Linked DNA regions of Homo sapiens. The protein of the gene in region 1 purifies or fractionates together with the protein of each later gene. This does not show direct contact. Each region holds a gene or a part of one and is shown on either strand. Other genes may lie near its edges.

Region 1 (6,952 bases):
GGCCAATTATGTGCCACAAATACAGGAGGGACTTCTAATTGGCATGTGTTTTTCCTGTGGGAGTGTCAGAGTGGTATTTATTCAGAAACTCGAATTTGTTACATCTGATTTCCTGGGAGTTGATATAAACTGCAGAATCCTTCCCTCTTCAATTGGCCCCATTGGGTTGGCTTGAATTATCTGCTTGTTGTATAATAGCATGTATATCATACTGTAGCATCTCAGACCATTTTGAGCAATGAAGAGGTATAAAATGATGACCCTAAGTTTATTGATAATACCCTGGCATACAGGTATGCTACAGGTAGGAAAACATTTTCTTGACATAGAGCTATTTTCCCAGTGTTCTAAGTGACTGTATTCCTACCAAGGACCAGAATGATCATAGATGTTTTGGTACCTACTCTTATTGCTGCTTCAGGTTACTCCAAAATAGGAAACAGGCTACATTTTGGTGTCCTGTTAAGTGTGTTCACTTAGATTACTCTCAGACACTGAAGCCTTATAAGGGACTGGTTGTGTCTATAAAGTGGATTACTCAAAGGAAGACTCTGCCCTTGGCACGCCCTGTCCCAGCTCAAAAGCACAAGTTCTTATGACTCTGGATTTTACCAGTAGTCTAGACCTCAGTGGACCTTGGGCAGAAGCCTTCCTGCCTGAGAGGCTGGAAGGAATTCTTTTGTTTTGTTTTAAAGGAAGTTACTTGTTTAAAACACAAATAAAGGTGTGGTAGACATCATTTTGGATTATAGCCTTAAAAAAAAAATCTGATTAACTTGATTCATTAGAGTGTGATTTTCTTTCTTTTGTATAAAAAATCTATTGTGATTAAGTTTACATGAATACATTCTCACGGGCTTGGCCTTGGACTTTATTCCTAATATGGTCAGTCATCCGAGGGATTATAATGAGGGAATGTCATGATCTAGTGAGCATGTACCTTTAACACAGCTCAGTCAGCTCCACTAAGGAAAAATGTCCAAGGGCTCATATTGATATCAGACTAAGGAAAAATGCCCAAGGGCTCATATCCATATCAGACTTTTTTTTTTTTTTTTTTTTTTTTTGAGATAGGGTTTCACTTTGTCACTCAGGCTGGTGTGCAGTGGCATGATCTTGGCTTACTGCAGCTTCAACCTCTCAGGCACAAGTGATCCTCCTGCTCCAGCCTCCTGAATAGCTGGAACCACAGGCATACACCACCACGCCCAGCTAATTTTTCTATTTTTTTGTAGAGACAGGGTTTCCCTATGTTGCCCAGGCTGGTCTCGAACTCCTGGTTTCAAGCGATCTGCCCACCTCAGCCTCCAGAAGTGCTGGGGTTGCAGGCGTGAGCCACTGTGTCCAACCCATATCAGGACCTTTTAATGTGGATATTCAGTTTGGCATATGCCATTAGGTAATCAGTCCAGCCAGTTCTGGAAAATCTTGTGACTCGCGTACCCTGCTTTGATTATTTCCGAATCCAGTGGGTAGAGAAGGTAAAGGCAAGGGCTCACTGGATATTTTTAAATTGTAGGGATGTCCTTTGCTCTGGGTCAATTTTAGGATCAAATATAAAAGCACCTATAGCTCAGAGTATCTTCTAACATAAAACTTCTGAGATACCAGAAATTTTCCAAAACATGGTATAAACAGTATGAAACACTGGGTAGATAAAAGCTTTCTCTAAATCTTAAAGTGCTCAAATATCATGACCTGATTTTTTAGTTTTAGAAATCAGATATTTTTCTATTCCATATCTTAAACTTTCATGTTAAATTCTAGTTCTGACAATGTAGGGTTCTATTTTTTTCAGGTGATTGTTGGGAGCGTATAGAAGCATATATAAATATGGAATATGTGTTTCTTTTTTCCCCTTCTGAAAGAAAGTCAAGCCTCTAATCAAATAGATTGATGCTTCAGAAACTTAACAGAATATTATCTGCAATTTGGCATAAATGCATTTTTCTTGGGGAAGTTTCCACGCTCAAAATTATTAGTCATTGCAAAACAGAAAAGTTTGACAACTGGAAATGCAGACCCTTTTGCTTGATTTTGTAAAGACAGGAAAATAAACAGATTATGCTTAGAATATCTGTTTTCAAAATTTAGTCATCATAAAGCTTATCTGAAAAGAAAAAATAGCAAAAATAGCAGCTTTTTCTTTCTTTTTCTTTTTTTTTTTAAGACAGGGTCTCACTCTGTCACCCATGCAGTGCTGTGATCTTGGCTCACTGCAGGCTCCATCTCCTGGGCTCGAGCAATCCTCCCACCTCAGTCTCCTGAGTAGCTGGGACTACAGGCACACACCACCGTACCTGGCTAATTTTTTTGTATTGGTAGAGACAGGCTTTCGCTGGTCTCGAACTCCTGAGCTCAAACAGTCCACCCACCTCAGCTCCCAAAGTGCTGGGATTACAGGTGTGCGCTCCCACACCCAGCCAGCAGCTTATTCTTAATTATGACATGACAAATTAAGTTATTGCTCTACACAGGTACATATGGTAGTGTGTAGTAGCAAATACAGGCATTTGTTTGAGCTGCAATGAGTAGAAAATCTATGTAACTGGAAAACAAATGAGTATTACTAAAAGTTTTGTGTGTATGTGTTTTAATTTCTTTACTTTAATAAGTTAATGATCTCCCTTGGAATCTTAACACAATTTGTTGAACAAATGTTTTTTGGGTTGGTGTAAGTCATGTCTTTCTTTGCTAAGTCACAATTCTAAGTGAATAAGGGGCACAACAGTGTGAACTTCGGTCATCGTATTTCTTTCTGATAGCTTCTCAAATAGACTTCTGTCACTTTCGATGAAATACTTCAGGTATCCATATACTTTTAACAACTTAGAGTATATCCTTCTAGAATCATATAACCAACTTTACAGCCAAAACTTAGAATTAAGAGCCATTGTCATTTGGTGAGCAGTGAATAAGATAAAGTATTCTTGGAAATGGTGAAATCTGGTATACCTTTTCGAAAGCATCTTTATGGGGATGGAACATTTTCTTTTAACTACGTGAGCTCTTCTGATAGGGATTTTATACTCCAAAACTAGTCTATAAGTTCCAAAAAAAAAAAAAAAGTTAAAGCTTGGTTTGGATTAGTTTCTTGCTTTATGTTTATGCTCTAGATAAATTTAGAAGAAAATTCTCTCTACCTCTACTGTTTTTTCTCCAAATTTTATTGCAAAACAATAAAGATTAAAAAATGGGGGGTGGGCTGGGTGCCGTGGCTTATGCCCGTAATTCTAGCACTCTGGGCAGCCTAGGTGGACGAATTGCTTGAGCTCAGGAGTTCATGACCAGCCTCAGCAACATGGTGAAACCCGGTCTTTACCAAAAATAGAAAAAAAAAAATTAGCTGGGTGTGGTGGCAGGTGCCTGTGGTCCAGGAGGCAGAGGTAGGAGGATCACTTGAGCCCCGGAGACGGAGGTTGCAGTGAGCTGAGATCATGCCACTGCACTTCAGCCTGGGTGACAGGTGAGACTCTGTCTCTAAATAAATAAATAAATAAATAAGAGTGGTGGGACCACAGGGTGATTTTTGTGTTTCTTTCTAAGCCTGGTATTTACTAGATTTCTGAAGTTATCTAGAGAAACACACAATGAGTCAACTTGAAAATGCTAATGTCAGCCACTTGGTATAATTCTGTAGTATAGTTCATCGAATTTACCAAATCCAGGGTTAGAAATAAATCTCAATGCTGGGCGCGGTGGCTCATGCCTGTAATCCCAACACTTTGGGGGGCCAAGGTGGGCGGATCACCTGAGGTCGGGAGCTCGAGACCAGCCTGACCAACATGGAGAAACCCTGTCTCTACTAAAAATACAAAAATTAGCTGGGCATGGTGGTGCATGCCTGTAATCCCAGCTACTCGGGAGGCTGAGGCAGGAGAATTGCTTGAACCCGGGAGACGGAGGTTGCAGTGAGCCGAGATTGCACCATTGTGCTCCAGCCTGGGTAACAAGAGCGAAACTCTGTCTCAAAAAATAAAATAAAATAAATAAATAAGAAATAAGTCTCAATAAAGACACATTGAACTTAACTGCTAGGATTTAAAGACGTGCTGTAATTAAATTAAGAGCATGTTCCCTATATATGTACTTAACTGCATTAGTAATAACAGCCTACCAAATGGCCGTAGCCTATTTATTAGTAAACAACTTGTCAGACTACTGACTTGGTCCATAAGACCCTAACCAGTTTGGAGATGAGACGGGGCCTCACCATACTACTGTGATTAATATTCCTGTTTAATTAGTGAAGTTACACACCTAACCAAGATATAGGAGATATTTCTTCTATTCCTGAAACATTTTTATTTTAAATATTTTTGATTAATGGAGTGACATAATGTAGAGTTGTTGAGTTTCCAGTTTCCTTAGAATCTGGACATCTTTAATGTTTTGTTGTAACATCTTGACTACTTGATAAAATGATTGTAAATCTGGGAAGGGAAATAGACTTTTTTTTTTTTTTTTTTTTGTAGAGACAGGGTCTGTCTATGTTGCTCAGGCTGGTCTTGAACTCCTAGTCTAAGCAATCCTCTTGCCTCAGCCTCCCAAAGTGCTAGGTTTACAGGCACGAGCCACCATACCTGGCCTGAAATAGACAGTTATATTTCTGACTTTGGGAACAAGAGCTAAAGTTATAGTTTGCCTTTTCCCTTATCCCCCACTGGTTTATCAGCAAGGTAATTATTGAGTTTATCAAAATCATCCCTCTAGGGAGACTTAACTTCCTTCTTTTCTGAAACTGTTAACAGAGAGCTGAGAGCTCTGATGCCAGAGCAATGACTGAGACTCCAAAGCATGGTAGGATTGGAGGATGGAGTTCTGGGAAGTCCTAACAGTGGGAGTAACAAGATAGTAAATCCAAGATCCAGCTAAGTAAAAGCTGAAACCAGTTGGGATTAAAGAAGAAGGAATGAATTTGTAACTGGGTAGTACGAAATTTCTTAAAATCAGTATTTTTTAAGTGCGTGAATATTGGAATCATTAGAATGCATAAAAACAGTAATAGTTTTTATAGCAACTCTGTTGCTATAAAATTCATTGAATTTCTCATATCAGTTGCCCTGAAAAATCCTAAATATCACTGTTGTTCACCTAGTAGCAACTCTTTGAATTGTAGCCAGATGTCTAGAAGAAGGTTGTTCTTTAGTAGTAATTCCTGCTAAAGTATGTGGAACACCCCCTCCTTACAAGTACAGAGCTGGGCAGGATGGCTTGCACCTGTAGTCCCAGCTACTAGGGATGCATAGGCAGGAGGATCACTTGAGGCTAGGAATTAGAGACCAGCCTGCTCAACATAGTGTGACTTCATCTCCAAAAACATAATTAAAAAACAATTAGCCAGGTGTGGTGGTGCACACCTGTAGGCCCAGCTACTTAGGAGGCTGAGGCAGGAGGATTGCTTGAGACCAGGAGTTGGAGGCTGCAGTGAGCTATGATTGCGTCACTGTACTCCAGTCTGGATGACAGAGTGAGACCCCGTCTCTCTCTCTCTCTCTCTTTAAAAAAATGTTTTTTAAGAGACAGGGTCTTGCTATGTTGGTCAGGTTGGTCTTGAACTCTTGGCCTCAAGCGGTCCTCCTGCCTCTGCCTCCCAAAGTGCTAGGATTATAGACGTTAGTCGCCACGCCTGGCTGAGACAAGTATTACTACAGCATCTACATGCATTTGAAAGTGTGCTAGTATTCCATGCATAAAAAATGATGAGTTCATGTCCTTTGTAGGGACATGGATGAAGCTGGAAACCATCATTCTCAGCAAACTGTTGCAAGGACAAAAAACCAAACACCGCATTTCTCACTCATAGGTGGGAATTGAACAATGAGAACACGTGGACACAGGAAGGGGAACATCACACACCGGGGCCTGTTGTGGGGTGGGGGGAGGGGGAAAGGATAGTATTAGGAGATATACCTAATGCTAAATGATGAGTTAATGGGTGCAGCACACCAACATGCAACATGGCACATGTATACATATGTAACAAACCTGCACTTTGTGCACATATACCCTAAAACTTAAAGTATAATAATAAAAAAAAAGTGTGCTAAACATTGATTTTACAGATGAGTCACTCACCCCAAGCTGTAGCCTGAGGCCTACAAACTGGAAGTACCTGATTTAGCAGGCGAGAATTCTACCCCTGAACCACCAATGCTACCAGCAGGAAGTACCTGATTTGGAAATCCAACTCTTTGGGAGTTAAAAGAACTTTTATTTTGTTCATTGCTAGTCTTCGGAGCCTAGAAAAGTGCCTGGCACATCCTGGTGGTTCACAACAAATATTTGTTGAAAAAAATCAATGAATTGACTCTGGCTTTTGCAGGTACTCCTTGTTGTTTTTCGCCCAGCTAATTTCTTTTTTTTTTTTTTTTTTTTTTTTGAGACGGAGTCTTGCTCTGTGGCCCAGGCTGGAGTGCAGTGGTGTGATCTCAGTTCACTGCAACCTCCGCCTCCCAGGTTCACGCCATTCTCCTGCCTCAGCCTCCCGAGTAGCTGGGACTACAGGCACCTGCCACCACGCCCAGCTAATTTTTTTGTATTTTTAGTAGACACGGTTTTTCACTGTGTTAGCCAGGATGGTCTCGATCTCCTGACCTCATAATCCGCCCACCTCGGCCTCCCAAAGTGCTATGATTACAGGTGTGAGCCACCACCCCCCGGCCTCACCCAGCTAATTTCTAAAAAGCACCAGACCTTCAAGCTTTTGTTCGCAGCAGAATTCTCTTACCATTTTCTGAAGGATGTTTTCTTCCTTGTTATTTTTTTCCTTCCCATTAATTATGTAGATTTATGTTATTAGGTAATACTGTTTTGAGGATCTATACATATTTGTCATTTACTGCTATTAAAGTGTTCAATATAGTTTCTAAACTTTGAATTAGTTATTTTAGCTCTATCTGCTATATCTTTCTTGAAGCAATGTATTCATTTGGTGGTGTTTTAACGAAAT
Region 2 (4,342 bases), on another chromosome or scaffold:
CATAGTTTCCTAAAAGATAGCAAAGCAGTATTATGTAGTGGCTGAAAGTGTGAGTTCCGGAGCCTGACAACTGATTCAAAGCATGGCTTAGTACTTCCTAACTCTGACCTTGGGCAAGTTACTTAACCTCTCTGTGTCCCATATGTGATTAGGGTGAGGTTGATAATAGCAGCCATAGAGTTAAGAGGATTAAGTGCTATAATGCAAGTAGAGCTCTTACAACAGTTTCTGGTAAATCACTCAATAAATTCAGACATACTATTATTTTAAGAAATCTCAAAGAGTTTTCTTGTACCTTAAAATTCTCCTAGTGTGAACCATTGGTTTTGGTATATTGTGCTTCCATGTAGTTTAATATCAAGATGTTTTTAGATTTCCCTTTTAATTTATTTGTTGACCCATTGGTTGTTCAGGAGCATGCTGTTTACCTGAAAATAATGGAGATATTAAGGTATTTGAATATTTATCTTCTAGTACATTGAAAAACTTTTTGAGAGTAACCAATAATAAATGATGGAATGCTACTGCTTTTTTTTTTTGAAGCTGCCAGTTATTGTTTACTTACACTATGCCAAATATAAAGGCATTAATCTCATAAAAGTTTCACAACAATCCTGTGAGGGAGACGATATCCCCATTTTACAAATCAGGAAATTAAGACTTAATAAGGTTAAAAGACTTGCCCAAAGTCACAGAACCAGTAAGTGGTAGAGCTTGAATTTGAATACAGACCTGACTCTAAAGCTCTTTTCTTTCTTTAGATTTTAGTGTTCATTGCTTACTTGAATGAGTATCTATAAGAAAACTTTAACATGTAAAACTTCTGTGAAATTATCTTGTCCCATATCAGGGTCATGTCAAACTAATGTCCTCCTCAGCATCTTTGGAAAACTTCAGAGGAGAAATGAGCTTTGCCCCTCCTGTTCATTTCATATACCACTGTTAGACCTGTCCTTCCCTTTCAGCATGCTTTGTCCATATTTAGAAGCTGTTGAAGCCATTACTTGTCTGGTCAGTTTTTAGTGCTGGAATGGACCTAGCCTTTTAGGCCTTCTGAGATTTAGTTTGATCTCGTCTTTCCCACCTAATGGCTCTGTTCTACTACATAGATTTGATCTGAAACAGTTCTCTGTTTCTAAAATAACTTTCTTTTCATGATAGTCACAGTAAAGTACATTTATTATGGAAAAATCAATAAGTATAACGAGTGAAAGTTATTTCTTGGTGGTAAGATTATGGGATTATTTGAACTTTCTGTTTCATTGTATTTTATTTATTTATTTATTTTTGTGATGGAGTCTCACTCTGCTGCCCAGGCTGGAGTGCAGTAGTACGATCTTGGCTCACTGCAACCTCCCCTTCCCAGTTCAAGTGATTCTCCTGCCTCAGACTCCCAAGTAGCTGGGATTACAGGCGCACGCCACCATGCCTGGCTAATTTTTTTATCTTTAGTAGAGACAGGGTTTCACCATGTTGACCAGGCTGATCTCCAACTCCTGATCTCAGGTATCCACCTGCCTCAGCCTCCCAAAGTACCGGGATTACGGGTGTGAGCCACCCTGCCTGGCCTCATTTTGTCTTTTGGGGGTATTTTTGTGTGCAGATATATATGTATATAAATATTTTTCCCTCTTTTCCCCAGTTAGTATTTGAGCAGATGAACTTTGGACCCGAATACCTGTATTCAAGTCTCTAATACCACTTCTTGGCTATTTTCATTTTATCAAATGGCCTCTTATCCTCGTTTTTCTCATTTATTAAGTAGAGATGTAACTACTTGATATAATTCAAAAACTCAATAATGGCATTCTTTTGTTTTTTAGACTCTAGTGTCTGTACTCGTTGTACCATGCTGGGATTCATTTGAACAATTGCATGGCTTTTTTAGTGTATTATTAAATTTGCAGTTTACTTAGAATTTACTGGGACCTCATACAAATGGGAAAAAAACATAACTGTGTTACTCATTTGCTGTGTGCCTTTGGATTGACCCTATTTTTTGTATTCATTTTCTCCCCATGTCCTGAGTTCCACTTTGAATAAAAAGTAATTTTTTTCCTGCCTGTAAAATAGGCTACCAATAGGCTGCAGTTGTCTATAGTAGCTGCTTCACTGAGGAGAGCTCAGCATGAGAGAAATAGTATGAATTGCTTGCCACAAGTTATGGGCTAGCCTTACTTCATTCTGTACTTGGACCTGTTTAGGCTTCTAAGAGATCTTACCTCCAACAATAAACTGCTTTGAGACATGAAAAGGTGGAAGCTTTACTTGGTTATAACTTTACTTTTAATACCTAGAACAGTGAGTCTTCAAACTTGTATTTGCATGCCCAATTTATAAAAAGTTTCCTGAGCATTTACCCCTAATATATGCATTTTAAATTATATATGATTTATGGTAATAATAATATATATGTTACAAAATACATACAAAAATATAGATTAAACAAGGTGAGGTAAAAAATTTAAAAGTTCTAATCTTTCTTGCAAACCAGTGGATCTTTTGTGCCTTACTCTGGTAAACACTGTCTTAGAAGAATATATAGAACATTAAAATCTTAATGCTATAGTTATATGACAGAGTATGATGAGAGCTACAGATAAACAACACATCATGAATCTTCTTGTGGCAGTGTTTATAACCATTATGTGAAATGCTGCCTCATTCTTATAACTAGCATAAGAACAGATAGGACTTTCTCGATTTTGAGGGGTAATTATTAGATGGTATTTTCTGTTAAGGACTCTTCCAGCTATAAAATTCTTAAATGTAGAAAGCGAAGTGAGGGTTTATGGTGAGAGGAAGCATTGGTATCATGTTTTAGTGTAGTCCAAGAATATGGACACATCCAGAAAATGCAGATCAAGTTTAGCCTAATGAGAAAATATATTTTGGAGTCCATATGGTAAATTAAATTATGTGATTTTTGAGTTATTGTACAAATATAATTCTTAGAATGTTAGAGTCAGGAGACTATAAGAGACCAACTGCTTCAAGTTTCATTTAACACATGGGAAACTAAGGCCAGAGAAATTTCAAGACTTGCCCAAGATTAGACCTCTTGTTAAGTAATGAAAGTGTTTTAAAAACAGGTGGGTCAAATTCTGTTTTTAAAATTTCCATTATGATGAAAATTTCAGTATTACAGGCTTCCAAATCCCAGCAGATGGGCCACTTGTTTAAAGGAGAGTTTGATATAATAAAGCATCTAAAAACAAGAGTTTGGATAATTCCTTAGGGTTGTTATGATGTGATTTGACTTATAATTGGAAATACCGTTTTATTCATTGTACTGATTTTCATTTCTCTTTTTCTTCTAGAATGTCTTGATTGTGGAAGTAAGTTCACATTTACTTTTAATATAACATTTATGACTTTTCTAACTTAGTATGCACCATCCTAAAGGTAAGCCAGGGAGAGAAATTCCTCTGCATCAGTTTTAATGGTGGGCTTGTGTTCTAAAGGAGTGAGATTGGTTTTTTGTAAAGACTACTTAGTAATTTGTTTTTACCAATAATGGAATGGTATACTTCCTACCTCTCTTTTTTTAGTTTGAAGTATTTTCTTTCTAAACATAACTCTCTCTCTCTATTTATCTATATATAATATATACATATATATCTTATATTTTATGTATATATATATATATCTTGCTTAGATTTTGTCTTATGTAATATTTGGTACATAAAAAATAATATTTATAATTTATAGACTATTTTCCATGTGTTATTATGTGCTAAAGTATTTTGTATCTTAGCACCGAGAGGCTAAGCAGTTTCCTAGGGTTACCAGCTAGTAAACTAAGGGAAACCTTTACTTCCTTTAGCTCAGTGGTTCTCAAAATGTGGTTCCCTAGACCAAAAGTATTAATATCAGACAAGAACCTACCGAATCAAAATATCTGTGATGAGGCCCAGCAAGCTATGCTTTAACAAGTTTCCGAGTGATTCTGATGCATGCTAAGGTTTAGGATCCCTTGTTTTTACTCATAAGTCACTTTCTCATTAAGGCCTTCCCTGGCCATCCTATATAAAATCTCATGTTTTCACACCGTCAACTTCGTATTCCTCCTCAATACTTTTATTTTCCTGATCACTTATCACTAACAGCCTCTCTCTCTCTCTCTCTCTCTCTCTATGTATATATATATATATATCACTTATCACTGTCTAACAGCCTCTCTTTATATATATATAATCTATAGATTATATATATATGCAGCATTGTGCAATCATTATCACGCTCAATTTTAAAACATTTTCATTGCCCCACAAAGAAACCCAATCCCCTTAGCCATCACTCCCCATTTCCCCTTCCCCCAGCACCTAGCAAACTGATCATC
Region 3 (6,952 bases), on another chromosome or scaffold:
CAAAAGGAGGGATCCATTTGGACGGTCTAGGAGGCTTAGAATTTTATTTTTGGTTTACATAATGTCTAAAAATTAATACGTTCTTTTTCTCCTTGCTAAAAGGTAAGTTGTTTCATGTTTGCCAGCCATTTATACCTTATTAGAGATGAATTTATGAGCTAAGTGACCGAGAGTAGGTTAGATTGGGAGAGGGCATATACTAAACTGTTTATCCAAGGTGGTGTGAAAAGGAAAGTAAAAGTGTAGGACTCTAACATAATCACTTACACCACTGATTTGTCTAGGGCAGATTATCTCTGGATAATCTTAGAATTCACCAAGAAGCAGAGACAGAAGTGACTCCCTGTGTTGTGGTGCTTGCTAATGGAGTGCGGCCTTTTTCATGTTTTCCTTCCCTAGGACCAGTGTACCATGAGTACTGTGAGTGTCCGGAAGATCCTCAGGCCTGGCAGAAGACTCTTTCTTGTCCAACCAAGGAACCACAGATTGCAAAAGATTTTGCTTCCTTTCCCAGCATCAATCTCCAGCAAATGCTAAAAGAAGTCCCCAAAAGGTTTGGGGATGAGAGAGGTGCCATTGTTCATTACACGATTCTCAATAACCATGTTTACCGGAGATCTTTAGGGAAATACACAGACTTCAAGATGTTCTCTGATGAGATTTTGTTATCATTGACAAGAAAGGTAGGAGAATGAATGAATTGATAATACAGTTTAATTATTTAGGTATAACATTTAAATGTTTAGAATTATAATGACAAAGGATGAAACAGATTTCAGGCTGAGAAATGGGCATCTAAGATATTTGCAACCTGAGTGTTCATCATGTTCTCCATCTTTGTGGATCTTACTTTCCTGTAAGATTTAAAATTAAGTGGCTTGAGGCCAGGCATGGTGGCTCATACCTGCAATCACAGCACTTTGGGAGGCTGAGGCGGGTGGATCATCTGAGGTCAGCAGTTCAAGGCCAGCCTGGCCAACATGGCAAAACCCCATCTCTACTAAAAATACAAAAATTAGCTGGGCGTGGTGGTGGGCGCCTGTAATCACAGCTACTCAGGAGGCTGAGGTAGGAGAATCCCTTGAACCCAGGAGGTGGAGGCTGCAGTGGGCCAAGATTGCGCCACTGCACTCCAACCTGGGTGACAGAGTGAGACTCCATCTCAAATAAATAAATAAATAAATAAATAAATAAATAAATAAAATAGAATAAAGTGGCTGAGCCCCCATCCCAGGTAGGTATGCCATACAGGACACTCCCAAGCTTTCTTTGAGCTTCCAGAGATTTATAACAAGGTTACTTCTTATTCTTTTTTTCAAATAGTCTATATTTACAATATCCAAACAGAACAGTCTCATTTATTTATTTATTTTTAAATAGGGATGGGGTCTTGCTGTGTTGAGCAGGCTGGTCTCAAATTCTTGGGCTCAAGCCATCCTCCTGCCTCAGCCTTGATCCTAGCTGGGACTATAGGCATGCACAACCATGTCAAGAGGCCGCTTTAAGTTCTCTGTTCCGCTGAATACTACTCCTGCTTAGATTTCACCTTCTGCAGCTGTTTTCTTCTCTTCACCTCAAAATGACTTGAACTTAGAACACATTTTCCTTGTTTTACCCTAAGCATACCTAGAAGATAGCGTGCATGGGACATTTTGTCAAAGCTTGGGCTACCAGAAACAGGTTGTTTTTTTTTTCACCAGTGCATACTAAAAAACAAACAAACAAAAACCCTGATATTTAAAAATAGACATCTCTGCACTAATCAGACTCTCAGTCATACTTGCCTCTGGGAATTTCTCAGGGCTGTCCTTGACCTTAAGTTCTTAGCCTCTCACTAATGTGGTTAGGCCCTCTGTTTTTCAGGCTCCCCACATCCCCCAATAGCGCCCCCTTATCTCACTATTCAGCCTCTCTTTCCACATTTGCAGAACTCTAAATTCCTCTTAAGCAGAGCAACTTAAACCACCTTTTGTTCTTGTTTCTGATCATACAGGGTGAAGGATGGAGGTGGGCAATATTTATCTTTCTTACTTAGAGAGACCATAAAGGGAGTTTTTTTGTTTGTTTGTTTGTTTGTTTGCTTTGAGATGGAGTCTCACTCTGCCACCCTGGCTGGAGTGCAGTGGCACGATCTCGGCTCACTGCAACCTCTGTCTCCTGGGTTCAAGCGATTCTCCTGCCTCAGCCTTCTGAGTAGCTGGGATTACAGATGCACGCCATGCCTGGCTAATTTTTGTTTTTTTAGTAGAGAAGGGGTTTCACCATGTTGGTCAGGGTGGTCTCAAACTCCTGACCTCGTAATCTGCCCGCCTTGGCCTCCCAAAGTGCTCAGCATGAGCCACTGCGCCTGGCCAAGGGAGTTTTATAAACCAAAAAAAACACAGTTTTCCTGATATGTTATACAATTCCCCAAGTATGCTGACTGTGTGGCTGCAGTCAGTTCTTACTTTAAATAGCAGTCCCCAACCCCTCCACCACCAGCCCACAATGTGAGGATACAAGCATGTGATGGGCATCTGCTCCTAAAGGTAGTGCTCTCTTCCCGGGCTACAACTAGTCAACTGTGCCCTGTATTCTTGCCTCTTTAATCCATGTTGCTGGCTTCATAGCAGTAGATTTCAACCAGGGATGATTTTGCCCCTCAGAGGACATTTGCCAATGTCTAGAGACATTTTTGGTTGTCACAACTCAGGGGTTGCTATTATCATCTAGTGGGTAAGCATCCTACAGTGCAAAGGATAGCACCCCCCAACCCCATCGCAAAGAATTATCCAGCCCCAAATGTCAATAATATGAGCTTGAGAAACCCTACTCCACAGTGAGCACTTCCAATGTGGAGTTTATTAAAGAGTTTATAAATAATAGCAGGGAGGCTGGGCACGGTGGCTCACACCTGTCATCCTAGCACTCTGGGAGGCTGAGGCAGATGAATCATTTGAGGTCAGGAGTTTGAGACCAGCCTGGCCAACAAGATGAAATCCCATCTCTACTAAAAATACAAAAATTAGCCGGGTGTGGTGGTGCGTGCCTGTAGTCTCAGCTACTTGGGAGGCTGAGGCACAAGAATCACTTGAACCTGAGAGGCAGAGGTTGTGGTGAGCCAAGATCACGCCACTGCACTCCAGCCTGGGTGGCAGAGTGAAACACTGTCTCAAAATAATAATAATAATAATAATGACAGGGAAGCAAGAGGGTGAATATTCACATCTCTTGCCCTTTCCTTTTGTTCTTTGCCCAGTGGCTGGGGAAGAAATAAATCTAAGATAAGTGAGACTCAGTCCTAGTCTCTGAGTAGCCCACTGTAGTGGGATTTGTTTTTGTTGTTTGGAAGTGGGGGTGGGATGTGAATACAAACAAATAATTATATCCCAATATGATGATAGGCCTCAAGAGAATTAAGTACCTAGGGTTTAAGTGCCTGAGGAGGGTGAGTCATAGAAGAGGTGGTGTTAGATCTGGGCTTGGAGGATGAGAAAGGAGACTGCCAAGTTAAATAAGTAAAACATTCCAAGTGAATGGAATTACATGTTGAGGTGGATGGCATTTTCAGAGAGTAGCCTAAGGTTTCCTGGTAGGTGGGCAGATGAAAGATGAGGCTTATAGCCAAGCTGGGACAAGATTGTGAGGCCTTGAATGCCAGCCAGAGAGTTGAGATCTTGTGCCATAGGCTTAAGGTTCTGTTAAGCTTGGTAGTGACATTAACAAAGTTATTTTAGAAATTTTAGTTTTAGAATTAATTTTAGTTTTGGAAATCTGAGCAGCCTTGTGGAGAGCAGATTACAGTATGGAGAGCCCAGAATCAGAACACCTAGTAAGGAAGTTATTGCAGCAATCTAGGCAAGAAATGATGAGAGTCTAAACTGAGACATTGACCGTGGAGATGGAAATGGACTGGCAGGTTCCAGAGGCAAGGGCACATGAGGCAAAGATGGGGACAGTGAAGGAAAACAAGGGTTTGGTTCTAACTTTGTAGATTCTCTTGCTTAGGCAGCTGGCAGAGGGTTATCGAAGCTATTCATTCTTACCTCTCTACACAATTTTCACTTCTCTAACACTACATTTTATTTTATTTTATTTCTTTTTCTATTTTTTTGGAGACAGAGTCTTGCTCTGTCGCCCAGGCTGGAGTGCAGTGGCGCGATCTTGGCTCACTGCAACCTCTGCCTCCCAGGTTCAAGCGATTCTCCTGCCTCAGCCTCCTGAGTAGCTGGGATTACAAGTGCCTGCCACCAGCCCAGCTAATTTTTGTAAGTTTAGTAGAGACAGGGTTTCACCATGTTGGCCAGACTGGTCTTGAACTCCTGACGATCCACTCGCCTCAACCTCCCAAAGTGCTGGGATTACAGGTGTGAGCCACCACGCCCAGCCTCAAACACTGAATTTTACATGCATCTCTGGACAGAGGTAGCTGACTCCTGGTTAAGTGAATTTGTCATGCAGGATCCTCACAGGTGACAAATTCACAGCCATCCTGTCAATGACAGGCATTCTTCTCTCTTCTCTGTTTTTGAATGGTTAGCCCTGTCAAAAATATGTAAGAAAACCAAAGAACTGTTGTACTTAGTACCAAAGACTGAGATCTTCCCAGCACTGATGTTTGTTTATATGTTTATTTAGGTCCTTCTCCCAGATTTAGAATTTTATGTTAATCTTGGAGATTGGCCCTTGGAGCATCGAAAAGTCAATGGAACCCCTAGCCCCATACCTATCATTTCATGGTGTGGCTCTCTGGATTCAAGAGATGTTGTCCTTCCAACGTATGACATCACCCACTCCATGCTTGAAGCCATGCGGGGTGTTACAAATGATCTCCTCTCTATTCAGGGAAATACAGGTATTCAGGGAAATGCAAGGCTAATTAATGAAGAAAAAGCTTAGAGACAGAGTGGGTTATACATATATGTTTGCATTCAGTAGCATATTAGAAAAAGTCTTGTACTGAAAATTCTGACCAACCTAGGGATTAAAGATTTGTGGATGTTCCTCAGTTATATAGTTTTTTCTGGTCACCCTTTGTAAGAACAAAGGGCTAGCTCACGTTTTATTGTGAAACACAGAAAATGGAAGAAGCTAATGCCTTGGTGAGTGGACCCAGTCACTGAATCTCTTTTTTGCTTTGAACACGGTCCGACATTATTTCAGGTATTTCCTAGTATTATACAACAGAATACACGAATACTTGCGTGAGCTTTCACTAGCAGACAAATGGATGAAATTAGAGCATTCTTTTACATAATACAGCAAATAAAAAGACTGTTTTTTTTAAACTCTAAACTTGAAAGTGCTTCTGGCAAATTGAGACTCAATCCCATATTTTCGTTGAAATAACATCTACTTTAGAAGATGAGTTGATAAAAGAGCTTTAGCATCTTAAATGACAATGGTAGATTAAAGAGGATTATGCTTGCCATATTAAAATGTCAAATTCATAATCCTAATTTTTTTATGGCTTCAAACTTGTAGGGCCTTCCTGGATCAATAAAACAGAGAGAGCTTTCTTCAGAGGTAGAGACAGCCGAGAGGAGAGGCTCCAGTTGGTACAGCTGTCCAAAGAAAATCCTCAGCTACTAGATGCAGGAATTACAGGATATTTCTTTTTCCAAGAGAAAGAAAAGGAGCTTGGAAAAGCCAAGTTGATGGGTTTCTTTGATTTCTTTAAGGTATGCATTTGAGTCTTCTTCTATGGATATGAAGCGATAAAATTGTATTAAAAGTCTACCAAAATAGGTGGGCTTCAGCAAATTTCACCTGGCTTGTGAACTGACACACATGTTCACACTTTCTTATTAGATATCAGGAATTACAAAACCCATTGTGGTTTCCTTCTTTCATTGTTAAGTTTACCAAATAGCTCAGAACTGTACTTAATTCTCAAAATATAGTACAAGGATTAACCTGGGATTTTGGTATATTTATGTCTCGTTTTTCTTTCTTTTTTTTTTTTGTATTTGCTTTCATAAACTGGGAATATAAATACCTTTTACATAAAGTGATCTCAAATGTCTTTTATAAATAGAAAAAGCATAAATTCCATATATGTAAAGTGGGAGTTGGGATTAGGGTTCAAGGCCTGCTTCTAATCCTGCCTCTGCCACCAACTATGGGACCTTCCTGTCTTGGTGCCTTGGTCTTTAAACCCGTGTGATGCCTGCCTACTCCTTCAGAGCATTATCACGAGGCCCAGAGGAGAGATGTGAACAATGTGACAAAACCTGATGGGCTCAAAAACTCCCTTGTACCAATTATTTAAGAAAAATTTATTTACCAAATCTGGGAGTGTGTCCTCTTCATCCCAGAGTGATACAATGAGTAGAACAGGGGATTTGGACTCAGAGAATGAGGTTTATACATTTCTCTGAATACCAGTTTTCTCATTTGTAAAAACAAAAAGAAGGGGTTAATAATACCTGCTTCAGATTATTCTAATTGAATGAGGTTTAATGCCTATGAAAACTACATTTGAAATGGAAAACAAAGTATATTAACCCAACAAATATGCAGACAGCTTACCTACTATGTTGCCAGCATTGCCCAAGTCCTTAAATGTCTCCAGGTTTCTATCTCCTCAGCTCTAAAACTGTAAAATAGAGACAATGCCTGCCTGTTTCATAGACTGCGTATAAGGAACAAATGAAATAATGAATAAATGAAAGTGTTCATTGTTATCAGTATTGAGCTTTAAGAATTTTGAAAATAGTTTTCCTGGCTGGGCGTAGTGGTTCACGCCTGTAATCCCAGCACTTTGGGAGGCTGAGGCGGGCGAATCACCTGAGGTCAGGAGTTTGAGGCCAGCCTGGCCAACATGGGGAAACCCTGTCTCTACTAAAAATAGGAAAAAGTTAGCTGGCTGCAGTGGTGGGTGCCTGTAATCCCAGCTACTCAGGAGGCTGAGGCACCAGAATTGTATGAACCCAGGAGGTGGAGGTTGCAGTGAGCCAAGATCACGCCGCTA
Region 4 (6,952 bases), on another chromosome or scaffold:
CCGGTCAGTATGGGAGCAGCCATTCTGTTCTAGCCACTGTACACCCAAGCAGAACGGTGTTTGCTAGCTCTGGTTGTCCTCTTGTATCCTGGGGTCCAGCAGTGTCCCTTGGAGCCCATAGATTGTTCCGAGTCTGACTGGAGGATGACCTTAGCAAGGTTCTTTGTGAGATAGGATGTGCCAACACGGTCATAGGTCTTTAGGTTTTGGATCTTCCTCTTTGTTCAGATGAGGAAGCCAAAATCCTAGTATATTGAGGGACTTACGGAAAACTAAAATACTCAGTGCTTGGATACTTTGTTCCTTATTTAACTAAGTCTTTATAGAACCAGAACATATTGGTTTTAGCACTAAGCCTCCAACATTTTTTTTTTAAATGAGCTCTGGGAGAACACCTGTGATTTGTCTCCTCCAACCCACTAGGCTAGCTTTGTAGTCTTACCTGTGGCTACAGGCTCTTTACCCTTGAGATGTCAGTGTTTTTCTTATTAGCTGTGTTTTAACCCTTCGACTGAAAGCAGAGCTAGAAGCAGCAGCTATGGCCTCTTACAGCAGAACTTTAAAATGGGTGGGTGTTTTGATCTTTTTTTTTCTCTGCCAATATTTTTCTAGGAATGCTTTAATTCTCCATATGGAGCGAAATATTTTCCTGAATATGCAGAGAAAATTCCTGGTGAATCCACACAGAAGCTTTCTGAAGTAGCAAAGGAATGCAGCATATATCTCATTGGAGGTAACTTCCTACCCACAAGGTATAATGACCTAAACATTAGAAACATCTGAATGAGTCAGGTGTGGTGGCGTGCGCCTGTATTCCCTACTTGGGAAGCTTCAGCTTGGGAAGCTGAAGCAGAGAGTTTCTTTTTCTTATTTATTTATTTTTTTTGAGGTGAGGTCTTGCTTTGTCACCCGTGCTAGAGTACAGTGGTGTGATCATGGCCCACTGCAGCCTCACCCTACGAGGCTCAAGTGATTCTCCCACCTCCTGAGTAGCTAGGACTGCAGGTGTGCGCCACCATGCCTGGCTGATTTTTGTATTTTTTTGTAAAGACAGAGTTTCACCTTGTTGCCCAGGCTGGTTTTGAACTCCTAGGCTCAAGCAGTCTGCCCACCTTGGCCTTCCAAAGTGCTAGGATTACAGGTGTGAGCCATCATGCCAGGACTGTTTTTTACTATACTAATAGAGGATTGAGAAAAAAAATTTTTTTCCATAGAGGCCACATACATAAAGGTAGCTTTATTTTTGTGGTTTTGGAATAAATGTTTAAAGGTTTTATTTGCTTAAATAAAAAATAAACACAGAAAAATTCTATAAATATAGCAAATACAATTTTTTCTGTATGATGATATATTAAGAATTAGAAATGAAGGCAAAGCAAGAAGCCTGGAGATGAAACTGCATTCAGTGATGGAGAGGCTTCTGACTTTACGTTCTCATCTTTTGGGACACAGTTTTGTTGCAGAACCTGGTGAATTCAAGTTAAGCAATGGGAAATTTCTCATTTTGCCCTAATGTTACAGATTAAGTGTTACTCAAGATCATGGCTGAATTTCAGGAACAGTTTGGTTATTTTTTAAACCTGTCTTTGGCATCTAACCTAATCATATCCCATCTACACTCTGGAGTTTATCTCTGAAAGATCATATTCAAGAAGGAAAAAAAAAACCATGATTAAGTAACCCATAGAAGGGAATACTTATTCTGTATTATAGAATGAGGTGTTGCCTTATTCTAAAAACAAAATGAATAAATAAACCGTAAAAGATAGGTTCTTTATTTTTGGACCCAAGTTATCAGGCTTTTATCCCTTTCTCACAAAAGAATTGCTCTATTCTTTTTCTTATGGTATGTTTCTTCTCTCAATGAAAGGCTCTATCCCTGAAGAGGATGCTGGGAAATTATATAACACCTGTGCTGTGTTTGGGCCTGATGGAACTTTACTAGCAAAGTATAGAAAGGTAAGTAGGAAGTGTGGCATAAGAATTTGTTATCTCTAAGCCAGCAACAATGTGTGGAAAAAAAATTTGCTATGAAGTTCCCTAGTCCCTCTCATTATATCACACATGTATTAGGGTTTTGACTGATTGGCACAGGTGGTTATTCTTGGCCATTTGCATTTTTATATAAGTTTTAGACTCAGCCTGTCAATTTCTGCAAAGGAACAAGCTATAGTAATTTTTTTTTTGACAGAATCTCGCTCTGTCACCCAGGCTGGAGTATAGTGGCACAATCTTGGCTCACTGCTAGCTCTGCCTCCTGGGTTCACACCATTCTCCTGCCTCAGCCTCCCGAGTAGCTGGGACTACAGGTGCCCACCACCATGCCCAGCTAATTTTTTGTATTTTTAGTAGAGACTTGGTTTCACCGTGTTAGCCAGGATGGTCTCAATCTCCTGACCTCATGATCCACCCGCCTCAGCCTCCTAAAGTGCTGGGATTACAGGCATGAGCCACCGTGCCCAGCCAACCTATAGTAATTTTTATTAGTATTTCATTGAATATATAGAGAACACTGTGGGAAGAGTTGCCATCTTTTTAGTATTAAATGCGTATACATGACCAGGTGCAGTGGCCCATGCCTGTAATCCCAGCACTTTGGGAGGTCTGAGTAAGTGGATCACCTGAGGTCAGGAGTTCAAGACCAGCCTGGCCAACATGGTGAAACCCCATCTCTACTAAAAATACAAAATTGGCTGGGTGTAGTGGTGCACACCTATATAGTCCCAGCTACTCAGGAAGCTGAGACAGGAGAATTGCTTGAACCCAGGAGGTGGACGCTGCAGTGAGCCAAGATTGCGCCACTGCACTCCAACCTGGGCAAGACAGAGCAAGACTCCATCTCAAAAAAAAAAATCATATACATTTAGTATCATTAAGTCTTCTTGATGAGTTGACCCTTTTATCATTATGAAATATCTCTTTTTTTTCTTGTAATACCTCTTGTCTTGAATTCTGCTTTATCTCTGCTATCACTATAGCCACTCCAGCCTTCTTATGCCTAATGTTTGCTGGTACGTGGTTTTTCCAGTTCTTTGTTCTCAAGCTATATGTGTTTTTATATTTTAAGTGGATCTCTTTTGTCAACAGCATATAATTGTATCTTAATTTTTTCTTTATTCTGACAATCTGTGTCTTTTAATTGAAGTGGTTAGTCCATTTATATTTAATGCACTTATTGATATGATTGAATTTAGGGATAGAGACATTTTACTTTTTTTTCCCTTTGTTCATCTTTTCTGTATTATTTTGGATTAATTGAATATTTTTTAGAGTTCTGTTTTAATTTATCTATTGGCTTTTTAGTTATACATCTTAGCTTTTTTTTTTTTTCCAGTTGTTGCCCTGGGAATTATCATATGCATCCTTAACTTTTCACAGGCTACTTAAGAGTTCATATTATATCATTTCATGTGAAATTTAAGAACCTTATAATGATATAGGTCCATTTTTCTACCCCACTGCCCCTGCCCTCATTCTTTATGCTATAGTTGTCATTTGTATTCCATGTATATATGTTATAAATCCCACAAAACAGGAATACTTGATTTAAATAGTCATATGTATTTTAAGGAAATTAAGAAGAAAAAAATCTTTATGTTTACCCAAATATTTATCATTTCTGGTGTTTTTCTTTCCTTCCTGAAGATCCTCCTTCTATCTGGTATATCCTTCAGACCAAAGGATCTCATTTAGAATTTTTGTTCTGAGGATCTGTTAGCTAGGAATTCTGTTAGTTTTTCTTTATGAATATATCTTTACATTGTTTTCATTCTTGAAAGATATTTTTGCTGGAATAGAATTTTGGATTGATAGTTTTCCTTTTTTTCCACTAGTAGTTGTTATCTAGCCTTTTTTTTTTTCTTCCCTGATGAGAAGTGAGTAGTAATTTGTATTGTTCCCTCGGATATAATTTGTTGTTTTTTCTCTCCTTCTTTCAAGTGTTTTCATAATCTTTAGTTCTTAGTATTTTGACTCTGATATGCCTAGATGTGGTTTCCTTTGTCTTTGCCTTCCTTGGTACTTCTTGAAACTGTAAATTTAAATCTTTCACTGTGTTTGGGAAGTTTTTTGACACTATTTTGTTAAATATTTTTCTGTTCCTTTTTCTTATGGAGCTCCAGTATATGTATATTATATTTTTAAATATTTTTCCAAGGTCACCAGGCTCTGTTTTTCTGTTTTTGTCTTTCCAATACTTTTTCCTTCTCTTCTACAGATTAGATAATTTCTGTTGATCTTTCAGACTTATTCACTGTTTCTTCTGTCTTCTTCAATTTCCCGTAAGCCAACCCAGTGAAATTTTAAAAAATTGAGATATTAAAATTTTCAGTTCTGAAATACCCCTTTGCTTCTTTTTTATAGTTTTTATTACTCTATGATATTTTCTATTTGTTCATTAAAAGCATATTTTTCTTTACAGTGTTGAGCTTAGTTAGTTTCTATAGCTGCTTTAAAGTCTGATAATTATCACATCTGTGTGCCACAGAATGAGACTATTAGGCCTTTAAAAGGCCCCTGATGTAAATAAACTCATATCCAAGCAAACAACAAGAAAAAAATTATAACATCTGGGTCATGGCAGGATCTGTGTTCATTTGATTGCCTTTTCTTTGCAGTTTGGATCACACTTCTGTTTCTTTGAGTATCTACTAATTTAAGATTGTACAGTGGATTATATATTGTAGAGATTCAAGATGCTATTACAGTCTTCCAAAAAGTGTTGAATATTTTGTTTTAACTGATGGTTAACTTGGCCGCACCCAAACACCAAACTCTTATCTTCTTTGAAACGTGGGCAGCAACTTTAGCTGCTCTGTTCTATCTGGTTGTTCTGCCCCACTTCTATTTAACTCAGTGATCAGCCAGAGATTTAGAAAGATTTTATATGCAGAATTTAGGGCTCTCCCTCTTTGCTTTCTCCATTTCAGGATTTCCCCCCTTGGTTTCCAGCTCTGGTTCTTCAAGCCAGTGTGATTATGGGTCATTTTCACCACTACTTATCACAGCAACTGGGACCTTGCTTCAGGGTAGCAGCTGTAAATAGCACCAGGAAGTTCACCCAGGGCTGTTCCCTGCTTCCACATGTCTGTGTTCTTCTCTTCAGATTTTGTCTGCTTTGTTTTGGTCATTCTTCAGTGCTTTAAGTAGTTGTGCCTTTTATTTTGTCCAGAGTTCATAGTTAACCACAAGAAAACTGGTCTGATAGGAGCTACTGTGTACCTGCTGGAAGAACAGCCAGCATTGGACTATTAACCCAACTCTTTGAAGTATATCTTTTTAGTATTAAGTTTTCCAGTCCATGAATGTGGTATATATCCTGACATTTATTACGCTTTCTTTACTTTCTCTCAATTTCTTTTTATAGTTTTTTGGGTATAATTTTGTTTAACATTTGTGAGATTTATTCCTCATTGGTGTTTTTAGATGCTCTTTCATTTTCTGTTTTTGTTTTTGTTTTTTTGAGATGGAGTCTTGCTCTGTCGCTTAGGCTGGAGTGCAGTGGTGTGATCTTGGCTCACTGCAACCTCCACCTCCCTGGTTCAAGCTGTTCTCTTCTTTCAGCTTCCCAAGTGGCTGGGATTATAGGCATGCACCACCATGTCTGGCAAATTTTTGTATTTTTAGTAGAGACGGGGTTTCACCATGTTGGCCAGGCTGGTCTTGAACTCCTGACCTCAGGTGATTTTTAAATGCCCACCTACTTTCCACCTCTCCTGTCAATTTGTCAGTTTGATTCTGATAAGTATTTTTTTTTTCTTTTTTTTTTTGAGAGAGAGAGTCTTGCTCTGTCACCCAGGCTGGAGTGCAATGGCGTGATCTCGGCTCACTGCAACCTCCACCTCCCAGGTTTGAGCAATTCTCCTGCCTCAGCCTCCTGGGTAGCTGGGACTACAGGCACGCACAACCACCCCCGGCTAATTTTTTTTTCTATTTTTAGTAGAGACAAGGTTTCACTACTTTGGCCAGGCTGGTCTCGAACCCCTGACCTCAGGTGATCCGCCCACCTCGGCCTCCCAAAGTGCTGGGATTACAGGCATGAGCCACCGTGTCCGGCCTGATTCTGAGAAGTCTTTATTTAGCATTTATATTTTTAAAAAGCAACATATTAGTTACCTCCCATGAGAAACCTAGAGGTTGATTTGCAGACTGCTAGAAAATAGGGGTTATAAAAGGTACAGTATCATTTTTCCAGTTCCCTGTGGTAGAATTCATTTTGATAAGGTGTCAGCCAGCTTGTGGGGTGGATTATAAGCAGTTTGGGGGTGCTGTTTGTATAGTTAATCTTAGAGCACCTTCCGTATCTGCCCGGGGAAAGATATTGTCATTACTGCCATGGACCCTGCTGGAAAAGAGGTAACCAAATCCATTATTTGTGATGCAGATCCATCTGTTTGACATTGATGTTCCTGGAAAAATTACATTTCAAGAATCTAAAACATTGAGTCCGGGTGATAGTTTCTCCACATTTGATACTCGTATGTACCAGATAAGTTTGCCTCTTTAGCAATCTCAGTAGAAGACAATCAGGTATTTATTTCTTTTTTGTCTCTCTCCGATTTCTTCACATAACCTAACTGAAAGACCATAAGTGAGAAAGGCAGAGAATCATCACAGATCTGGAAAGTTCGGGCTTATTTGAGAACTAAGGATTTGACACGATTTTGCCCTTTGATTTGATTGTAGCTTCCTGTTACGGCTTCCAGAGTATACCTATTAGGCTACAGTTGAGTACCTCCCATCTAGATAATAAGCATTCAATTAGAATGAATTTCTCATCTTTACTCCGCTGATGTAAATGATGTCTTTATGAGATGAAGTCCAAGTAGGAATGAGCTTGTAAATTATCTCTGTCCTCAGGTCCTGTGTTAATTTATCCCTGTCAGTGTTTTGTGATCATTATGTCATGGAGGATTTCCCCTGCCACACCATGCTGTAGGGAGTTAACTTTTCA
Region 5 (6,640 bases), on another chromosome or scaffold:
TCACGCCTGTAATACCAGCACTTTGGGAGGCCAAGGAGGGTGGATCACGAGGTCAGGAGATCAAGACCATCCTGGCTACACGGTGAAACCCTGTCCCTACTAAAAATATAAAAAATTAGCCGGGCGTGGTGGTGGGCACCTGTAGTCCCAGCTACTCAGGAAGCTGAGGCAGGAGAATGGTGTGAACCCGGGAGGCGGAGCTTGCAGTGAGCAGGAGATTGCGCCACTGCACTCCAGCCTGGGCGACAGAGCGAGACTCCGTCTCAAAAAAAAGAAGAAAAATTTAAGAAATATAAAAAGTGGAAGATAAAGCATCTTTCTGATGTTTGCATTTTTCCTCATAAAGTAGATGGTGACGTTTTCTTCTGCTGCCTCTCTTAGATATACCCTCAATGTCCTGGAAGATCTTGGAGATGGTCAGAAAGCCAATGACGACATCATTGTGAACTGGGTGAACAGAACGTTGAGTGAAGCTGGAAAATCAACTTCCATTCAGAGTTTTAAGGTCAGAATCCATATTTGACTATTAAATATTATGTTTGCTGGATAACATCTATCATTTGGGAAGGCAACTTTTGGCTTCTTTGTGAGTGAGAATTAGTGTTGGGCTAATGGCACAATTCTTTACGAATTCACTGGGCTTTGTTTTTGGCACTTGATATAAGTAAGCACATGTTAATTTGTATGTATCAAAATTCTCAGATTTGTTCTCCTTTCACACTAGGACAAGACGATCAGCTCCAGTTTGGCAGTTGTGGATTTAATTGATGCCATCCAGCCAGGCTGTATAAACTATGACCTTGTGAAGAGTGGCAATCTAACAGAAGATGACAAGCACAATAATGCCAAGTAAGGGAGACTGCTAATAGTATGAAAAGAACGCAGCTTTGTAGCTGGACAGATCTGAATTCTAATTCAGGTTCTGCCATTTAAGAGTGGTGTCACCTTGGGAGAAACCTCTTGGAGCCTCAGATTCCTCATCAATAAACTGGGGGCAATAATACTTACCTTAGATTTTATAAAGATTAAATTTTTAAAAATTATAAGAGCCTAGCCTTGTGCTTGGCCTACTAGGTGCTTAGTCGGTTGTTGCTTCAGTGGATTACAGAAATAATGTAGCATGTATTTTAATGCAAATCAGGTAAAACTTTACAAGGAAAATAAGAGCTTAGGGTGTTCATCTGTCTGTCTCATTCTTTTTTTAAAAAACGCATTATCCACTTATGTCTCTTTTACTATACATAGATCATTCTTACTACATTTATTGAATTTATCTTCATCAGTTCCCATATTAACAGAATGCTTGCTAGCCCTCCACAGAAGACTATGCCTTGAAAGTTTCTTGCATTTCAACAATATTCAGAAGGTCTTTTCCACCAGCCTATTTTCTTCTTCACCAAAGGCCTAGAGTGTGACCTGGCTTCATGGGTGACCCATGAAAACCTTACTAGTTAGACATTGAAAATCCATCCACAGTCCTGCATTACCGAACAGCTAAGAAGCATTCCTGCAAAACTTTGGAGTTAGGCACATTATTTCTTTTTTCCTTGAAAAATATTTCTAGCAGATATGACAAAGGTCTAATATCCACAATATATCAAGAACTCTTGAAATCTCTTTTTCTAGAAACTCGATGATTTAATTATCTTTAAAGATTCTGGTTCCAACACACCTAGAAATACTTCACGGATTAGTTGAGATGTGTTCCTGAAAATTTCCCTACCTGGACATCTCAGTTCTTCTGTCCCTTCGTCTACCTTTTCTAGTTTTTGGTCCAGCCACTCTGTCCACGTACCACGTAGACTGTCTCCCCTCTCATGAATACTTGGAAGTATTCATTGCATCTGCCTAACAACTTGGGTTTTGCATCTAGCATGATTTTCCACCTCATATCTCTAAGATGACTTGAGTGTGTGTTATTATGTGTGCAATGAGAATATTAACATGGATTGTATAGACAGCCTAGGTAATTATATATATAAAGTTGGTGCTTCAAGCTTAATTCTCACCTCACATTGGAGAAAAAGAGTGAATAAATATTATTAGCCCCAAATAATAGAGCTTAAAAACCTACTGTAACTTCAAAGTGAAATCAAAACCCAAATCAAAAGAAAACAAAAAGCAAAACTGTTCTAATTGGAACTATCAATATGGAATTTTTGCATCCCAGCATAATAATTATATATGAGGAAATAGATGTCTTACGTGGTGTCCTTAACTGACAAGAATTTCATCCTGATTTTGTTTCCCCCTAAAATAGGTATGCAGTGTCAATGGCTAGAAGAATCGGAGCCAGAGTGTATGCTCTCCCTGAAGACCTTGTGGAAGTAAAGCCCAAGATGGTCATGACTGTGTTTGCATGTTTGATGGGCAGGGGAATGAAGAGAGTGTAAAATAACCAATCTGAATAAAACAGCCATGCTCCCAGGTGCATGATTCGCAGGTCAGCTATTTCCAGGTGAAGTGCTTATGGCTTAAGGAACTCTTGGCCATTCAAAGGACTTTTCATTTTGATTAACAGGACTAGCTTATCATGAGAGCCCTCAGGGGAAAGGGTTTAAGAAAAACAACTCCTCTTTCCCATAGTCAGAGTTGAATTTGTCAGGCACGCCTGAAATGTGCTCATAGCCAAAACATTTTACTCTCTCCTCCTAGAATGCTGCCCTTGACATTTCCCATTGCTGTATGTTATTTCTTGCTCTGTTATCTTTTGCCCTCTTAGAATGTCCCTCTCTTGGGACTTGCTTAGATGATGGGATATGAATATTATTAGACAGTAATTTTGCTTTCCATCCAGTATGCTAGTTCTTATTCGAGAACTATGGTCAGAGCGTATTTGGATATGAGTATCCTTTGCTTATCTTTGTAGTACTGAAAATTTGCCGAAGTAACTGGCTGTGCAGAATGTAATAGAAGCTTTTCTTATTCTTTTATTCTTAAGATCAGTATCTTTTTACAGTATTCTTTCTACATGATCCTTTTTTGTACATTTAAGAATATTTTGATTATATTAAACAAGACTGCTGATTTTGCTACTTTTTTTAAGGGGTCTTCAAGTAAGTAAAACATACATCGTAGCTAGAAGAAAAATGTACCTTAAATTTGCATCTTCCCTCTCATACCCAAGCTGTAAACAATTGAAATATTTTGTCTTAAATCACTTGGTTCAATACATGCTTATTTGTTTTAAAACCTGTATCATCAAACTCTCTCTCTAAATTTAAAATGCTGTTGAATATGATACTTTTGAGGAGAGAGTGTGCTCAGAACTTAGACGGGATTTGGTAGGCCAAGTATGCTAAGTGTACAATATATTTTTTAATTTTACACCTGAAACAAAGAAATGTGGTCACTAAAAATAAAAGTATATATGTAGGAATTAATGTACTCTTGCTTTGTCAAGCTGTTTGCTATAGTTTCCAAGGTATTATGTTACTCTAACTCTGAAAAGTGATGTAATCTGGTAGCAATGTAGTAGTTCAAATAAAGGCATTTACATAATAATTAGTCTGTTCTTCATGCTTTTGTCTCTTAGGAAGTATGCCAATGTTTGTCAGGATTTTTTTCTTTTTGTTTTTCTGATGTATTCTGTAAAATGGTGTTTGTTAAATTTGAGTTTTGGGAGCTGAATTAGAGGTACTGAATTAAGGACAGTACAAATGAAGTAAAAAGGTTTTCTCCAATTTACCAAAATTTCTTTATCCAGTTCCTGCTTTTTTCTTTCTTTTCCACCTCCCTCAGTCTTTTCAATGTTCTATGATATACATATCCTGAAACAGTGGGGATCTGAACAGTCACAGAGGAGAAATGGTTCATAGTAGATCTTCTCAATCTCATCCATATATGACATTTTTGGCTGGATAACTCTGTTGGGGTGGGGAGAAGGGGCTACCCTGTGCATTGTAGGAGGTTTAGCAGTATTACCGGCCTCTACCCACTAGATGTCAGCACATGCCCGGTGGTGTTGACCAAAATTGTCTCCAGACATAACCAAATGTCTCCTGGGTGGCAAAATCATCCCTTGTGGACAATCAGTGCCCATTTAAGCCTTTGTGTGAATGAGTAATATAAGGTGTAGTCTACTGAGGATTTGGTTACATAGAGATACTATATAATACTTTGCATTTATAATCTGAGAGATGGAAAGGCCTTTTTAAATATCACCTGAATTCCAAAGACATAAAATTAAAAAAGGATATATTTGACAACTCTACTTTTGCAAATATATATGTATAATAAAAAAGATCAAAATATAGATAACTAAAAAAGTGAGTTCAGTCTCAGATTATAGATTCTTTTAATATAAAAATAGGATTTATGAGTGAAAAAAAGACAAATCTGCAAACATACTAGGGTAACTGATGAAGTAAGGACAATTACATCTTAAGACCTGTCTTATGCCTTGAATCTGCCATACTCATTCACGTTCATCTTCGTCGAAGTACAAAGGTTCTTCTCTGTAAGCCCTAACGCCTTGAAGTGCCTCTTTAACAAGATAGGAAAGATATATTACATGTGGCCCTTTCTTCAAAAAAGGAGCTGATTTCTTGGGTGGTTCACTATACAGGGCCCACAGCCTGTAGGAGTGTACCATGGGATAGTTAAGTGTTCATATAAAGCAGTGGACCTGACACACAATTTTTTTCCTCCAAAAACTAATTTCAACAAATAAGAATGTGGACCAAAATTAGCAACACATTCAGAATTCTGCTGGGCGTGGTAGCTCATAACTGTAATCCCAGCAATTTGGAAGGCTGAGGCAGGTGGACTGCCTGAGCTCAGGAGCTCAAGATCAGCCTGGGCAACACGGTGAATCCCCATCTCTACCAACATGGTGAATCCCCCATCTTTTCCCCACACACCTGTAACTTCAGCACTTTGGGAGGCTGAAGTAGGAGGATTTCTTGAGGCCAGGAGTTTGAGACCAGCCTGGACAACACGGGGAGACTCCGTCTGTATAATAAAGTTAGCTAAGCATGAGGCTGGGTGCGGTGGCTCAAGCTTGTAATCCCAACACTTTGGGAGACCAAGGTGGGTGGATCACCTGAGGTGAGGAGTTTGAGACCAGCCTGGGCAACATAGTGAAACCCCATCTCTACAAAAATACAAAAATTAGCCAGGCATGGTGGTGGACACCATAATGTGTCCCACCAGCTACTCGGGAGGCTTAGGCAGGAGAATCACTTGAACACTGCGGGCAGAAGTTGATGTGAGCCGAGATTGCGCCACTGCATTCCAGCCTGGGTGAAAGAGCTAAACTCCATCTCGAAAAAAAAAAAAATTAGCTGAGCATGGTGGTGCATACCTGTGGTCTCAGCTACTTGGGAAGCTTAGGCAGGAGAATCACTTAGTTCAGTTGATCAAGGCTGCAGTGAGTTGTGATAGAACCATTGCATCCTAAACTGGGCTGCAAGACTCCATCTCTTAAAGAAAATAAAGATGATATTCCCCCTCTATCCTAATATGCTGAGAGATTGATTTTTTAAATTTTTGTCATGAATGGGTGGGTAGATTTTATCAAATGCTTTTTCTGCATCAATTTATATCATCATAAAATTTTCTTCTTTACCCTATTGATACGGTGGATTACATTGATTAGTTTCCAAAGATTAAACAAACCTTGCATGCCTGAATAAATCCCACTTGGTCAGTGTATAATTCTTATTCATTGTTGAATTTTATTTGCTAATATTTTATTGAGGATTTTTGCATCTAAGCTCAGAATGACGTTAATTTTTATTTAAATGTTTGGTGCAAGTCTCCAGTAAAAGTGTCCAAACCTGGAGATATTTCTTTAATGGTTATGGGGCTATTCAGATTATCTATTTAATCTTGATTGCGTTTTGGGTGGCTTTTGAATTTTGAGGAATTTGTTCACTTCTTCCATGTTGCTGAATTTGTGACCATAAAGTTTTCGTAGTATTTCCTTAATTATCTTTTTAATAGCTGCAGGATATGTAATGATATCTTCAGTTTGATTCCTCACAGTGGTGATTTATGTCTTCTCTCTTTTTAACCTTTGTCAGTCTTGCTAGAAGTTTATCAATTTCATTACTTTTTTTAAGAACTAGCTTTTTGTTTCTTTGTTTTTGTTTTTCTATTTTATTGATGTATGGTTTTATCTTTATGATTTCCATCTTTCTGCTTTCTTTGAATGTGTTCTGCTCTTTTTTTGTTGTTGTTGTTGTAGCATCTGTCCAAGACAACCGTAAAAAGCCACTAACCTCAATAAACTACCCATACAGAATTATCTATTTCTCCTTTCAGCCATATCAGTTTTATTTTGTTTTTTGTTGTTGTTGTTGAGACAGAGTCTCACTGTGTTGCCCAGGCTGGAGTGCAATGGCGTTGGCTTGCGGCAACCGCCTTTTCCGGGTTCAAGCAATTCTCCTGCCTCAGCCTTCTCAGTAGCTGTGATTACAGGTGCCCACCACCACTCCCTGCTAATTTTTTTTTTTTCTATTTTTAGTAGATACAGAATTTCACCATGTTGGCCAGGCTGGTCTCGAACTCCTGACCTCAGGTGATCCACCAGCCTTGGACTCCCAAAGTGCTGGGATTATAGGCATGAGCCACCATGTCCGGCCACACCCTGCTCAGTTTTTATGTATTTTGAGACTGTGTTGTTTGGTGCTTACAC

What was found.
Region 2: the proteins of PPA1 (region 1) and HPRT1 purify together in Homo sapiens (affinity purification with mass spectrometry, with the first as the bait; one large-scale study listed by BioGRID). This does not show direct contact.
Region 3: the proteins of PPA1 (region 1) and POGLUT3 fractionate together in Homo sapiens (co-fractionation; one large-scale study listed by BioGRID). This does not show direct contact.
Region 4: the proteins of PPA1 (region 1) and NIT2 fractionate together in Homo sapiens (co-fractionation; one large-scale study listed by BioGRID). This does not show direct contact.
Region 5: the proteins of PPA1 (region 1) and PLS3 purify together in Homo sapiens (affinity purification with mass spectrometry, with the first as the bait; one large-scale study listed by BioGRID). This does not show direct contact.

Annotation. Positions count from the first base shown.
Region 1 is NC_000010.11:70,221,766-70,228,717, reverse strand, and holds part of PPA1 (inorganic pyrophosphatase), read left to right. Parts: intron 1-6,952.
Region 2 is NC_000023.11:134,486,868-134,491,209, forward strand, and holds part of HPRT1 (hypoxanthine-guanine phosphoribosyltransferase), read left to right. Parts: intron 1-3,320; coding exon 3,321-3,338; intron 3,339-4,342. UniProt on the Homo sapiens protein: Converts guanine to guanosine monophosphate, and hypoxanthine to inosine monophosphate. Transfers the 5-phosphoribosyl group from 5-phosphoribosylpyrophosphate onto the purine.
Region 3 is NC_000011.10:108,479,888-108,486,839, reverse strand, and holds part of POGLUT3 (protein O-glucosyltransferase 3 isoform 1 precursor), read left to right. Parts: intron 1-399; coding exon 400-683; intron 684-4,617; coding exon 4,618-4,834; intron 4,835-5,463; coding exon 5,464-5,660; exon of another isoform or gene 5,661-5,680; intron 5,681-6,510; exon of another isoform or gene 6,511-6,577; intron 6,578-6,952. UniProt on the Homo sapiens protein: Protein glucosyltransferase that catalyzes the transfer of glucose from UDP-glucose to a serine residue within the consensus sequence peptide C-X-N-T-X-G-S-F-X-C. Can also catalyze the transfer of xylose from UDP-xylose but less efficiently.
Region 4 is NC_000003.12:100,339,203-100,346,154, forward strand, and holds part of NIT2 (omega-amidase NIT2), read left to right. Parts: coding exon 1-3; intron 4-612; coding exon 613-733; intron 734-1,870; coding exon 1,871-1,959; intron 1,960-6,382; coding exon 6,383-6,476; intron 6,477-6,952. UniProt on the Homo sapiens protein: Has omega-amidase activity. The role of omega-amidase is to remove potentially toxic intermediates by converting 2-oxoglutaramate and 2-oxosuccinamate to biologically useful 2-oxoglutarate and oxaloacetate, respectively.
Region 5 is NC_000023.11:115,647,169-115,653,808, forward strand, and holds the end of PLS3 (plastin-3), read left to right. Parts: intron 1-381; coding exon 382-505; intron 506-724; coding exon 725-849; intron 850-2,260; coding exon 2,261-2,393; 3' UTR 2,394-3,693; downstream 3,694-6,640. UniProt on the Homo sapiens protein: Actin-bundling protein.